Homo sapiens: one gene and its partner. The protein of the gene in region 1 purifies or fractionates together with the protein of each later gene. This does not show direct contact. Each region holds a gene or a part of one and is shown on either strand. Other genes may lie near its edges.

Evidence for each region.
Region 2: the proteins of HBM (region 1) and BPIFB1 purify together in Homo sapiens (affinity purification with mass spectrometry; 2 studies listed by BioGRID and IntAct, with this or other methods). This does not show direct contact.

What each region holds. Positions count from the first base shown.
Region 1 is NC_000016.10:164,353-167,290, forward strand, and holds HBM (hemoglobin subunit mu), read left to right. Parts: upstream 1-1,625; 5' UTR 1,626-1,645; coding exon 1,646-1,737; intron 1,738-1,915; coding exon 1,916-2,120; intron 2,121-2,227; coding exon 2,228-2,356; 3' UTR 2,357-2,412; downstream 2,413-2,938.
Region 2 is NC_000020.11:33,296,633-33,300,283, forward strand, and holds part of BPIFB1 (BPI fold-containing family B member 1 precursor), read left to right. Parts: intron 1-892; coding exon 893-956; intron 957-1,484; exon of another isoform or gene 1,485-2,212; intron 2,213-2,438; exon of another isoform or gene 2,439-3,221; intron 3,222-3,266; coding exon 3,267-3,352; intron 3,353-3,651. UniProt on the Homo sapiens protein: May play a role in innate immunity in mouth, nose and lungs. Binds bacterial lipopolysaccharide (LPS) and modulates the cellular responses to LPS.

The sequences.
Region 1 (2,938 bases):
GCGAGGAGGGGCTGGGGCCTGCTGCGGGGTCGCAGATGTGTCCCGGTGCTCGGAGAGGGCCGCAGGGCGCGTGGGCCGTGGCGGGAGGCCGCGCTGCTGGGAGCTCACGGCCCCCGCCCCCCGTCCCAGGCTCTTCCTCAGCCACCCGCAGACCAAGACCTACTTCCCGCACTTCGACCTGCACCCGGGGTCCGCGCAGTTGCGCGCGCACGGCTCCAAGGTGGTGGCCGCCGTGGGCGACGCGGTGAAGAGCATCGACGACATCGGCGGCGCCCTGTCCAAGCTGAGCGAGCTGCACGCCTACATCCTGCGCGTGGACCCGGTCAACTTCAAGGTGCGCGGGGCGCGGTGCGGGCGGGGCGGGGCGGGGCCGCGGGGCGGGCGGGGCCGCGGGGCGGGGTCGCGGGGCGGGGCGGGGTGGGGTCGCGGGGCGGGGCGGGGTCGCGGGGCGGGGCGGGGCGGGGCGGGGCGGGCGGGGCGGCCGGGGCCCGGCGGGGCGGGGCGGGGCGGGGAGGGGCTGGGCGGGGCGGGGCGCGGGGCGGGGCGGGCCGGGCCGGGGCGGGGTCGCGGGGCGGGGTCGCGGGGCGGGGCGCGGGGCGGGGCGGGGCGGGGTGGGGTCGCGGGGCGGGGCCCGGGCTAGGCCCCGCCCCCGCACTGAGCCGCCCCCGCCCCCAGCTCCTGTCCCACTGCCTGCTGGTCACCCTGGCCGCGCGCTTCCCCGCCGACTTCACGGCCGAGGCCCACGCCGCCTGGGCCAAGTTCCTATCGGTCGTATCCTCTGTCCTGACCGAGAAGTACCGCTGAGCGCCGCCTCCGGGACCCCCAGGACAGGCTGCGGCCCCTCCCCTGCCCTTCACCCTCCCACAGTTCCTGCCCTGACTCCAATAAATGGATGAGGACGGAGCGATCTGGGCTCTGTGTTCTCAGTATTGGAGGGAAGGAGGGGAGAAGCTGAGTGATGGGTCCGGGGGCTTCGCAGGAACTCGGTCGTCCCCACTGTCGTCGCGGCCTGGGGTTCACTTGGGGGGCGCCTTGGGGAGGTTCTAGCCCCTGAGCACCGGAGCTGCGGCCCGGGTGGAGCGGAGCAGTCCCGGGCCGGCCCGCGGCGTCTCCTGGGGTCCTTGAGTCGGACGGGCGTTTGTGCGTCTCCCGGCTTCCCATATCGCACAAAGATTGTCACTTCACTAAGCGTATTGGAAGCGTGTCGGGGCTCAGGGAACTTTTCCACAAAGCCTGACGTCCGAATCCCGGGACTCTGGCAGCTACGGGGGTCCCTGAGGCCGGTCCCTCCCCGACTCCTAAGAGAGTAGGGGGTTTCCTGCCCGGTGTTCTCTCTCCGGTTCCTCCCATGTGCTCCCTCCTGGCAGAGCAGTAACTTTACCCGAGGGGAGTAAACAGATGCCCCTAAAGTCTGCAGTAAAGGTGCCCACGCGCAACGGCGTGGGTCAATGCCAGAAACCCTGGGATCCCGGAGGTCGAGGCCTCCACACAGACGGGAACCCGGGCTGGTTACGTTCCCCGGCGCAGGCCGAGGGTCCCCGCGTTCCCGCCGCGCTCGGGCCGATAAGGACGGGCGGGGTGCCCGGAGGCTCTATAAGGAGGCCAGGGCGGCGGGCGCGGCCCCCAGAGCACGTCAGGCGGCGCCATGCTCAGCGCCCAGGAGCGCGCCCAAATCGCGCAGGTCTGGGACCTGATTGCGGGCCACGAGGCGCAATTCGGGGCGGAGCTGCTGCTCAGGTCGGTAGAGGCGGGGTCTCCGGGAGCTCAGGGAGGTGGAGATGAGGGTTTTGGGCGCGTGGGCCGCCAACGCCATCCAAGGTCCTTCGGGTGCGGATCCCCGGGCTCTGGGCGGTGTGGGCGCTAGTGAAGCCCCACGCAGCCGCCCTCCTCCCCGGTCACTGACCTGGTCCTGCAGGCTCTTCACGGTGTACCCCAGCACCAAGGTCTACTTCCCGCACCTGAGCGCCTGCCAGGACGCGACGCAGCTGCTGAGCCACGGGCAGCGCATGCTGGCGGCTGTGGGCGCGGCGGTGCAGCACGTGGACAACCTGCGCGCCGCGCTGAGCCCGCTGGCGGACCTGCACGCGCTCGTGCTGCGCGTGGACCCAGCCAACTTTCCGGTGAGGCCTTTCCGGCCGGGGCAATGGTGCAGCGCGCAGCCGGGGTGGGGGGGCTCTGGGGGTCCCTAGCGGGGCAGACCCCGTCTCACCGGCCCCTTCTCCTGCAGCTGCTAATCCAGTGTTTCCACGTCGTGCTGGCCTCCCACCTGCAGGACGAGTTCACCGTGCAAATGCAAGCGGCGTGGGACAAGTTCCTGACTGGTGTGGCCGTGGTGCTGACCGAAAAATACCGCTGAGCCCTGTGCTGCGCAGGCCTTGGTCTGTGCCTGTCAATAAACAGAGGCCCGAACCATCTGCCCCTGCCTGTGTGGTCTTTGGGGAGCTAGCAAAGCGAGGTCACTATTGTTGGCCAGTGAAGCTCAGGGACCTAAAAGGAGCCTCCTAGAACTCTCAAATGCGCCCCACCCCCGGAGGTTTGTCCTCCCATGGCGAGGAGTGCGATGGGGCAGAGGGAGCACTGTGATGTGGCGGGGGTAGGGAGGGTGGCCTTCGACTTCAACCCTTGAATCGGGCTTCCAACCATACTGTTCGCAAAGCACTTCCCCATTCACGCATTTATTCATTCATTCTCCCTCCATCCCCACTTCCTGCTGGGACCTGTAGATGCTAATCCTGGCCCTTTTTGCAGAGAGATGCAGAAACTGAGGTCCCAGAGCCAAATGTGCAACCTAATTCGTTGGCCCAGAGCAGAGGGCTCCGCAGACCTGTTCCTTTCCCCTTCCTTCCCCCATGGACACTTCCTCAGTGGCAAACCTGCGCTAGCCTGGTTAGCCCTCCCTGTGACCCTGCAGCCCTGGGGATGAGGTCGGGAGGAAGTC
Region 2 (3,651 bases), on another chromosome or scaffold:
TCTACCCACTAGTTGTCATCCCCTCCAAGTTGTGACAACTAAAAATGTCTCTAGAAATTTCCAAATGTCTCCTTGGGGACAAAATCTCCCCCTGTTGAGGACTGCTGGCAATTTTAGGAAGAGAAGTGCCCAGTGAGCAAAGGGATGTGTTGGGCTAGAAAGCCACAAAGGGCACAAAGAGATTGCCCAGGAGTCTGGTTGGGTCTGCCTTGCTGGCCTCTGTTCCAGAGTCTGACATGTGAAAAGAACTCAGTAGCAACTTGCTGTATGAATAAACAAATTCTCCATTTAACTCTTGTTTTTTCTTTTAAAGTAGAGTCTTGCTCTGTCACCCAGGCTGGAGTGCAGTAGCACGATTCCAGCTCACTGCAACCTCCACCTCCCAGGTTCAAGCAATCCTTGTGCTTCAGCCAACCAAGTAGCTTGGATTACAGGAGTGCACCACCATGCCTGGCTTTTTGTATCTTTAGTAGAGATGAGGTTTCACCATGCTGGCCAGGCTGGTCTCAAACTCCTGGCCTCAAGCGATCCACCCACCTTGGCTTCCCAAAGTGCTGGGATTACAGGCATGAGCCATTGCGCCCAGCCTCCATTTCACTCTCATGGAAAACATAGACACCTGTGAGCAAGACAAGGAGTCAGAGAGGGAGGGCTGCTGGCAGGCCAAGCACACCCTGGGCACAGGGAAAGGGACAAACCACTGCAAAAGGTCCCAGGTGGCCCTGCAGGCTGGGTTCAACACACGAATGAATCCTCAACCCATGGATGGAACCTGGCTGGCCATGGGCACAGCAGTAGGACACAGGCCAGGTGGGCTGGGCACAGCCCGGGGCTGCTGTGGGGCTGCATTCTGGCCCCTCCCTGATGGAGCCCCTTGCTTATGCTGTTGCAGCTGTGTCCCGTGATCGAGGCTTCCTTCAATGGCATGTATGCAGACCTCCTGCAGCTGGTGAAGGGTAGGTGCTCTGCTCTCTCTCCCACTTTTTCCTTTACTACGGAGCTGGCCTCCAGACCCTGACTCCACCAAGGGAAGGCCTCCCCAAGTCAGGCCTGAGCTGCAACTCAGGCCCAGAAGCAGGTGAGACAAGCATCAGTTGATCCCTGCCCCAGACGCGCAGACAGAAATTCGCCACGACTAGGACTTCATGAGCTCTTACTATTTGTGCAGTTGTCAGGTCAGTGGATGCCCCAAGTTCAAATCCCAGCTCTGCCCCTGACTTGCTCCATGACTTTGGGAAAGCTAATTTACCTCCTCATCCTCGGTTTCCTCATCCATAAAATGGGGCTTAACCATCCCTACAACATAGGATTGTTAGTGAGGAATAAAAGTCTACAGGAAAGTTCTGGGCACATAGCAGGTGTCCCTCTTGGCACAGAGAAGCACTTACAAATGCATGCTAAATGGATGGATGGATAGATGGATGGATGGATGGATGGACAGACAGAAGATGCTAAGATTACAAGCATGAGCCATCACACGCAGCCCCCGGACTAGTTTTTATGGATACTTTAGAAAACTGCAGCATCAAATAGTTCTATCCATCTCGTTGCAGTTTCAAATTTTCCCTCCATCCAAAGGGTTTGAGGTATCTGAGAAATTAAAGCATGGGTTAAAAACTGAGATATCTGGTTTAAAAAATAAAAATCAGAGATGATTCGAAGGGCAAAGACGGAAGGAAGTCATTTCTCCCTCCCCCAGCATAGCAGATACGGGAGGGCACAGGCTCCTGCCCCCACATCAGAACTCTGCCATGCTCAGGCCCCCAGAGTGGAAACTGGCGGAGAAGAAGAAAAGTCTACCAACTGCACTTTGGGATCAGAAGAGGCTCATTCCAAGGGCGACCAGAGAGGAGAAGGGAGAGCAGCATGCACTGAGCGCCACAGGGCATCTGCCATGGGCCACGCCCTCCCGCTGGGTGTTTTGTATAGGCACATCTCACTGACTCCTCAGACAACTCCATGAGGTGGCAGTCATGACCCCCCTTCACTGTGATGAAAGAGGCTCCGAGCAATGAAGTCACTGTCCAAGTTCACAGAGGCAGTTGGTGATAGAGGAAGACTTGAGTTCTGAGCGAGTGTCATTCGGATTGAGCCGTTACTAGGTGCCAGTTGTATACATGAAGCAGGAATTACTATTCTACCGCCGTTTCTTTCCTTTTTTCTTTTTTTTTTTTTTAATTCCCAAAGAGTTCTTCCAATCGTCAGATATTTGGTCAGTATTCAGAGTAGGATCCAGAGTTCACACATTACATTTTGTTGACAAGTCTGTAGATTTCTCTTTGTAAATCACATTTTTTTGTTGTTGTTATAGCCATTTTCGGGGACCTTATTGACTTTAATATACTTTTTTTTTTTTTTTGGAGACGGACCTTTTTTCTTTTTTTAAAGTAATTTTTACAGGAGTCATGCTCATCGTCTCTATGTCCTTCCGATTTTAGTACATGTGCTGCCCTGGCGGGCACTATACCCTCATTTTAAGACGAGGAAACAGATTCAGACGCGAGAAGAGACCAGCCAAGGTCACTGGGGCTCAAACCGAAGTCCAGCTGGCTCCTCCGCTGCCCCGAGGACGGGCCCGGAGGTCTCCCTGGAGCGGTAGGCGGCCGGTCCCTGGCCCTCCAGCACTCCCCATCCTCGGCCATACACCGGGGCAGGTGACACACCACCGCCACCTGGCGGCCAAGTGGGGAATTCTGACGCGAACACGAGATCTTTGGGGGGAGCAGAGGAGCCAGTTTGGATTTCAGAGTAGATGTTACCAGGCCTCTGGCTTCCAGCCTAAGCTTCCTTGAGATCCAGGTGCTCATAGGGTGTCCAGACCCAGAACCACCTGCATGGGGGACGCGGCTTTCAGTCTGGTAGGGGCGGTGGAGTGTTACATACAATAGTTCAGTTCCGTTCCAAACCGGGACTTTGGCATAAAACCGACTGGGTTCCCATGCTCTCATAGTATGGCTTTGAACAGGTCATTTCCCTTTCCTCAGACTTGGTTTCACCATCTGTAAAAGGGGGTAATAATAAGACCTACTTCCTAACGTTATCATGCAGATGAACCAGCTGACATGCAGAGGCCTGGCACTTAGTGGATGCTCGATAAATGTCACTGTCATCACTGTTTGCATCATTATTATCAACATCATTATTACCTGCTCCTCCCTACCTGCCCCCCCATGCAACAGTACAGCTCCACCTGGAAGCAGCCCCCCAACTTCCCCCTCCAATACTGCCCTCCACCCTCACAGAACTTTCTTCTTGTCCTTGAGCAGTGCCCATTTCCCTCAGCATTGACCGTCTGGAGTTTGACCTTCTGTATCCTGCCATCAAGGGTGACACCATTCAGCTCTACCTGGGGGTGAGTGTCCCAGGACCTTGAGGGTGAAGTGGGGACATTGCTGCCCTTCTCTGACCACCAGGAGTCAGATAGCATGGGCCTGTGTTAGGAGAGAAAATCCTGGTCACCATTAGGACACGGGCTGATCTAGAAAAATCACTGCAGGCTGAATATGTCCCATGCAAGTTTGTTTTGTTTTGTTTTTTTGAGACTGAGTCTCACTGTCACCCAGAGTGACATGGGGGGGCCCGAGTGGGGACACTGGGCCCTCAGCCTTTCTCTCAGGCAAGTCCCTGCCAATCCCCAAACCTATGACAACC